2 linked regions of the Homo sapiens genome follow. The protein of the gene in region 2 purifies or fractionates together with the protein of the main gene of each other region. This does not show direct contact. Each region holds a gene or a part of one and is shown on either strand. Other genes may lie near its edges.

The links. The genes of interacting proteins can lie anywhere in the genome.
Region 1: the proteins of NEK4 (region 2) and TUBA3C purify together in Homo sapiens (affinity purification with mass spectrometry, with the first as the bait; 2 studies listed by BioGRID). This does not show direct contact.

What each region holds. Positions count from the first base shown.
Region 1 is NC_000013.11:19,176,049-19,178,824, forward strand, and holds part of TUBA3C (tubulin alpha-3C chain), read right to left. Parts: intron 2,347-2,776; coding exon 2,198-2,346; intron 1,560-2,197; coding exon 879-1,559; intron 1-878. UniProt on the Homo sapiens protein: Tubulin is the major constituent of microtubules, a cylinder consisting of laterally associated linear protofilaments composed of alpha- and beta-tubulin heterodimers.
Region 2 is NC_000003.12:52,707,944-52,711,940, reverse strand, and holds the end of NEK4 (serine/threonine-protein kinase Nek4), read left to right. Parts: intron 1-71; coding exon 72-164; 3' UTR 165-3,497; downstream 3,498-3,997. UniProt on the Homo sapiens protein: Protein kinase that seems to act exclusively upon threonine residues. Required for normal entry into proliferative arrest after a limited number of cell divisions, also called replicative senescence.

The DNA of each region.
Region 1 (2,776 bases), on a different chromosome or scaffold from region 2:
TGTATTTTTAGTGGAGAGCTGTGATCACCACACTGCACTCCAGCCTGGGTGACAGGTGGGATTCTGTCTCAAAAAAGTAAATAAATAGGGTTGAGCACAGTGGCTCATGCCCGTAATCCCAACATTTTGGGAGGCTAAGACAAGCAGATCACTTAAGACCAGGAATTTGAGACCAGCTTGGCCAACATGGTGAAATCCCTTTACTAAATACACAAAAATTAGCTGGGTGTAGTGGTGCATGTCTGTGGTCCCAGCTACTCAGGAGGCTGAGGTGAGAGAATCACTTGAGCCTGGGAAGCAGAGGTTGCAGTGAACCGAGATCACACCACTGCACTCCAGCCTTCTCAACAACAAAGTAAGTAAGTAAAGCTCATCACAGATACATAGTGTAATGACTTAGAAAGAGTTCAAAAGACATCACTGGGCCAGGCACAGTGGCTCACGCCTCTAACCCCAGCACTTTGGGTGGCCAAGGTGGGTGGCTCACCTGAGGTCAGGAGTTCAAGACCAGCCTGGCCAACATGGCATAACCCTGTTTCTACTAAAAATATAAAAATTAACTGGGTGTGGTGGTGGGTGCCTGTAATTCCAGCTACTTGGGAGGCTGATGGAGATTGCAGTGAGCTGAGATCACACCACTTTACTCCAGCCTGGGCGACAAAGCTAGACTCTGCCTCAAAAAAAAAAAAAAAAAAAAAAAAAAAAAAAAAAGACATCACTGAATTAATGATCACTCTGGTTCACTAATTGATGCCCACATGCCTAGCCCATGGAATAGGGGTAGTATCCTCAAAGGATGTGGGCCTTCAGGGGCAGCATTACTCTGTGTGTCTGTTGCTTGCTGAAAGGTACAAGGACTCCACATTACCCAGTCATACCTTAAATCCAGTTGGGCACCAATCTACAAACTGGATGGTGCGCTTGGTCTTGATGGTGGCGATGGCCGCGTTGACATCTTTCGGGACCACATCCCCCCTGTACAACATGCAGCAGGCCATGTACTTGCCGTGGCGAGGGTCACACTTGACCATCTGATTGGCTGGCTCGAAGCAGGCATTGGTGATCTCAGCCACGGACAGCTGCTCGTGGTAGGCCTTCTCGGCTGAGATGACCGGGGCGTAGGTGGCCAGGGGGAAGTGGATGCGGGGGTACGGCACTAGGTTGGTCTGGAATTCCGTCAAGTCCACATTCAGGGCCCCGTCAAATCGCAGGGAGGCCGTGATGGAGGACACGATCTGCCCAATCAGGCGATTGAGGTTGGTGTACGTGGGACGCTCGATGTCCAGGTTGCGCCGACATATGTCATAGATGGCTTCATTGTCGACCATGAAGGCACAGTCAGAATGTTCCAGGGTCGTGTGGGTGGTCAGGATGGAGTTGTAGGGCTCCACCACGGCCGTGGAGACCTGGGGGGCTGGGTAAATGGCAAATTCTAGCTTGGACTTCTTGCCGTAATCCACTGAGAGCCGCTCCATGAGCAGAGATGCGAACCCAGAGCCAGTGCCACCCCCAAAACTGTGGAAGATGAGGAAGCCCTGCAGTCCCGTGCACAGATCCGCCTGAGGGAAACCAGACAACATGAATCAATGCCCGTGGAAGCCACACCACCAACCTCCACCAAGCCAGGGCCACTTCTCTGCCTCTGAAGACTTGATATGGATTCCAATCATCCATAATAAACACGCAGTACACTCTGAAGCAAAGAAAAGCAGACAAAGATCTACAGACAAATCACCATGCATACTTCAGACTAAGACCATTGCAGACGCAATAGGACTCAAGATACTGTTCTAAGTTGTTTTTTTTTTTTTTTTTTTAGATAGAATCTCACTCTGTTGCCCAGGCCGGAGGGCAGTGGCATGAACTCCGCTCAGTGCAACCTCTGCCTCCCGGGCTCAAGCCATTCTCCTGCCTCAGCTTCCTGAGTAGCTGGGACTACAGGCAGGCACCACCACGCCTGACTAATGTGTGTATTTTTAGTAAAGACAGGGTTTCACCACGTTGGCCAGGCTGGTCTCAAACTCTTGACTTCAGGTGACTGCCCACCTTGGCCTCCCAAAGTGTTGGGATTACAGGCGTGAGCCACCAGACCCAGCCAACGCACTGGTCTAGGTTTTGACAAAATGACCTCCCCTTCACAATCTAAGATCTACCCTCCTGTGCAGGACAATGGTCACATGAAGCCTTCTCTTCTTACCAGTTTGCGGATCCGGTCCAGGACCAGGTCGACGATCTCCTTGCCGATGGTGTAATGGCCTCTGGCGTAATTATTGGCCGCATCTTCCTTCCCGGTGATCAGCTGCTCTGGGTGGAAGAGCTGCCTATAGGTTCCTGTGCGCACTTCATCTACAAAAGAGACCGTATGTACTGTGAATCTTTAAGGCCTATACTCACCAAGATGGACACATTCCAGGACTGTTCACTTCTACAAAGTACATGCTGTTCAAAGTACATGACCTACATGTTGTAGGTCAACAGTGGCAGTGTCTGGTAGAAAATGTCTCTGTGTGATAACCAAAGTGCAAATGTGTGATAACCAAACTGTGATTTATGACTCTAGGAAGTGAAACTCAGCTTACAATATAAATGTCAGCACGACCAGCTCCCAGTGAAGGGAAATAAGCTCCAGCACCCCCACACAGGTAATTCTACAGGTACATAATTCTTTCCTACATGTAGCTACATCGAAGGCTGTAAGTTAAAAATGCTTACAAACTGAGAAGTCACCAGGTCAGTGTGACTTCTGCAGGGCAGTCCCATCAGGGCACCCTGTGTG
Region 2 (3,997 bases):
CTTCCTCTAAGATTACAGAAATATTTTTTCCTACTACATACTGATTGATTTTCTTTTTGTTTCTCAAATAGGTACGTTTGCGGGAGCACATGGGTGAAAAGTATACAACTTACAGTGTGAAAGCTCGCCAGTTGAAATTTTTTGAAGAAAACATGAATTTTTGAGCATTTGTCCTAATCTGCTGCCAGAATTAAAGACCTATTTTTAGAGGATTTTGGCTTAAAAAGCAAGGGCAAACAGTCATTTGGAAGCCACTCACCACTGTTTTATATCTCTTTTTTATATCTCTTTGGCGTTTCCCTACAGAAAAGAAATTGGACAGAACAGAATAATATGAAGCAGGATCACAAAAGAAAAAAAACTTTGGCTTTCATATTCTCTTTGTGAGGACAAATCTGTTGTTTGTTTGATTACTGTTTACTGAGCCTTAATCCACCAAGTTTATATTTAGAATTTTATTTTTTTAAGGTACTAATTAACTTAAACACAGAGCTATAAAATGCTGGATTGAAAATTTTATATTGTAATGTAGAGATAAAAGCAGTAGGAGAAACAAATGACATAATATGTCGTCATAATTCCTGCTATTGTTAATAACCTTAAGGAGTAGTTGATAAATTATAAAATTTTAAAAAGTCAATTCAGTTCTAGAAATAGATTTAAAGAATATGAAGTTCTATCTAGTACTTGAGCAGCTGTATTTCTTTTCTACACATTGATGGACTTTTAATATTTTATTCTCATTTAATATAAACCTCATCTAGGGTATATACAAATTAAAACTGAGACACATTGGCTTTGTAAATCAGTATGTTTTTACATAATGGTTTTGTTAGATTTATTTTTCCATCAGTGAAAACATTTCTTAAACACAAATTTCATTTCCATTTAAGCAATTTGTAAGCAAAGTCCAGGTCCATTTAGTTTTTGGATATATTTAATGTTTGTCTCCTGAAGTTTGTCTTCATGTACTGTAAGATATTAGTTGTCTTTCCATGTTTTAAATGTATGATTATATAGCACATATTTTATTAGTTGTTTAATAAGAGGTAATACCCATCTAGGAAAGAAATTTTATGAAGTTAAATACAAGTCTTGAATAGTACATTTTCACTTCTGTATTCGAGGGACTCTAAAAATAAATATTGCTCCAGAAATGTTTTCAGGTGTTTTTTTTTTGAGACAGAGTTTCACTCTGTCAGTCAGGCTGGAGTGCAGTGGCATGATCTCAACTCACTGCAACCTCCACTTCTGGGGCTCAAGTGGTATTCCTGCCTGAGCCTCCCTAGTAGCTGAGACCACAGGCGTGTGCCACCACACCTGGCTAGTTTTTGTATTTTTTGTAGAGACAGGGTTACACCACATTGCCCAGGCTGATCTCAGAACTCCTGGGCTCAAGCAATCCACTCACCTCAGCCTCCCAAAGTGCCAGGATTACAGGAATGAGCCACTGTGCCCAGCCCTGTTTTCAGTTTCTATAACTAAAAATATATCTATCTTTGAAAATTACACACACACACAAATACTCTAATGAAATGTTCCCTTTACAGCCACTTAACAATTTTTTTTTTTTTTTAAGACACAGTCTTGCTCTGTCACCCAGGCTGAAGTGCAGTGGCCCAATCTCAGATCACTGCAAGCTCCGCCTCCCAGGTTCACTCCATTCTCCTACCTCATCCTCTCGAGTAGCTGGGACTACAGTTGCCCGCCACCATGCCCGGCTAATTTTTTTGTATTTTTTTAGTAGAGACAGGGTTTCACCGTGTTAGCCAGGATGGTCTCAATCTCCTGACCTCGTGATCTGCCCGCCTCGGCCTCCCAAAGTGCTGGGATTACAGGCGTGAGCCACCGCGCCCGGCACACTTAACAGATTTTTATTTAGAGTTTACTGTGTGCCAGGTTCTCTGCCAGGAGCTGGGGATATAGTGGTGAATAAAACAATACTTCCTGCCCTTTTACAGTGCTCACAGCCTGGTTTCTGATAACTCTTATTTTCACTTTGAAGGGTTTGCTAGAACTCAACTTGCAAAACCATCAAGTCCCAATGCCCAGTTGGGAACAAATCTTTGGCAAACTTGGTATCCTTGAGCTATTCACCTTTCCGTGCATGTTTTGGAAATCCACATCGTTCTGGAGAGTCATCAGTTTTACTTAATTTTTCTAATGTATTGGTATAAAGTAGGTATTTTATTAGAATTAAAGGAATCTCACCCATATCTTTTTTTTTTTTTTTTTTTTTTGAGACAGGGTCTTGCTCTGTCACCCAGCCTGGAGTGCAGTGAGGTGATCATAGCTCACTGCAGCCTTGACCTCCTGGGCTTAAGTGATCCTCCCACCTCAGCCCCTCAAGTAGCTAGGACCACAGGCATGCACCACCACACCTGGCTAATTTTTAAAATTTTTTGTGGAGAGGAAGTCTGTGTTGCCCAGGCTGGTCTCAAACTGCATTCAAGCAGTCCTCCTGCATCGGCCTCTGAAAGTGCTGGGATTATAGGCATGAACCACCACACCTGACTTCCCCCATACTTTCTTATTAATTACCATACTGTATATTTTTATTTTGTTTAAACATCTTTTCTTCCCACTTTTATCGTTTTTACTTGAGTGCTTAATTCATCTTCCTAAATTAATTTAAAAACTCATCTTTAAGACTGTGAATTTTCTTCCGAATATACCTTTGGCCACAGTTCAGAGACTTTGATGTGTTACTCTTTTGGCATTGGTTCTAAAATGTCAATCATTCTTTTTTTTTTTTTTTTGAGATGGAGTCTTCTTGTTGCCCAGGCTGGAGTACAGTGGTGCGATCTTGGCTCACTGCAGCCTACGCCTCCTGGGTTCAAGTTCCCCTCCCTCAGCCTCCCGAGTAGCTGGGATTACAGGCACACACCACCATGCCTGGCTGATTTTCGTTATTTTTAGTAGAGATGGAGTTTCACCATGTTGGCCAGGCTGGTCTTGAACTCCTGACCTCAGGTGATCTGCCTGCCTTGGCCTCCCTAAATGCTGGGATTACAGGCTTGAGGCACCATGCCTGGCCTAAAGTGTCAGTAATTCTGATTTCGGTTTTCTCTTTTAGAAGTTTTGATTTCCACAGACTTACAAAGCTAAGGAAGTTTTATGTCCTTGCTCTGGCTACACTGCAGTGTTACTGAATATCACCTGCACAACCTTTACTGCTTGCAGTTTTTTTTTTCCTGTTGCTTTGTACATGATCCGTTATTCAAATGGCCTTATAGGCATTCAATAAAGGTGAAATGTTAAATACAAAATCACTTGTCTATTAAATTTTATTCAAGGTTCTATATAAGATCTGATAAATGGAACTTTGTGATGGAAATGTTTTATATGGTAGCCACTAGTCACATATAGCTATTGAACCTTTGAATCATGGCTAGTTTTAGAGTTTTATATTTTAATTTTAATTAAATAGACGTGTCTAGTGGCACCATATTGTACAATGCAGTTCTCATTCAATAAATCTTAAGTACTTAACAATGCATCGTGTACTCTTCTATGTACTGGGTAGACAGCAGTGAGCAAAACAAAGTCCCCGTTCTCATGGAACTAATGTTCTAATGACAACTATTAATTACATACCATGAAATGTCTCAAACTCCTGGGCTCAAGTCATCCTCCTGCCTTAGCCTCCTCAAGTGCTGGGATTATAGGTGAGAGCCACTGCACCTGGCCAGAAGCACGAACTTCTAACTTAGGCTTTTATTAATTATCTTCCTTGCAGAATAATCAACAGAAGACCCTTTAGACAAAGAACTTGCACTATGAGGTTTAATTGGAAACATTAAAATGGTTAACTCATAATGAATTATAAAACTTTGATAGTTACATTGTACTATCATTTATGAGGCATTTATTTTTCATTATTTACACCTGAAAGAAACTTCATACTTGTGTGTTCTGTTCCCCATCTCAGAGCAAGATTATGAAGAGAAGGTCTAAACTACTTATATAAATCAAAACCCAACTGGGCTAGAAATGA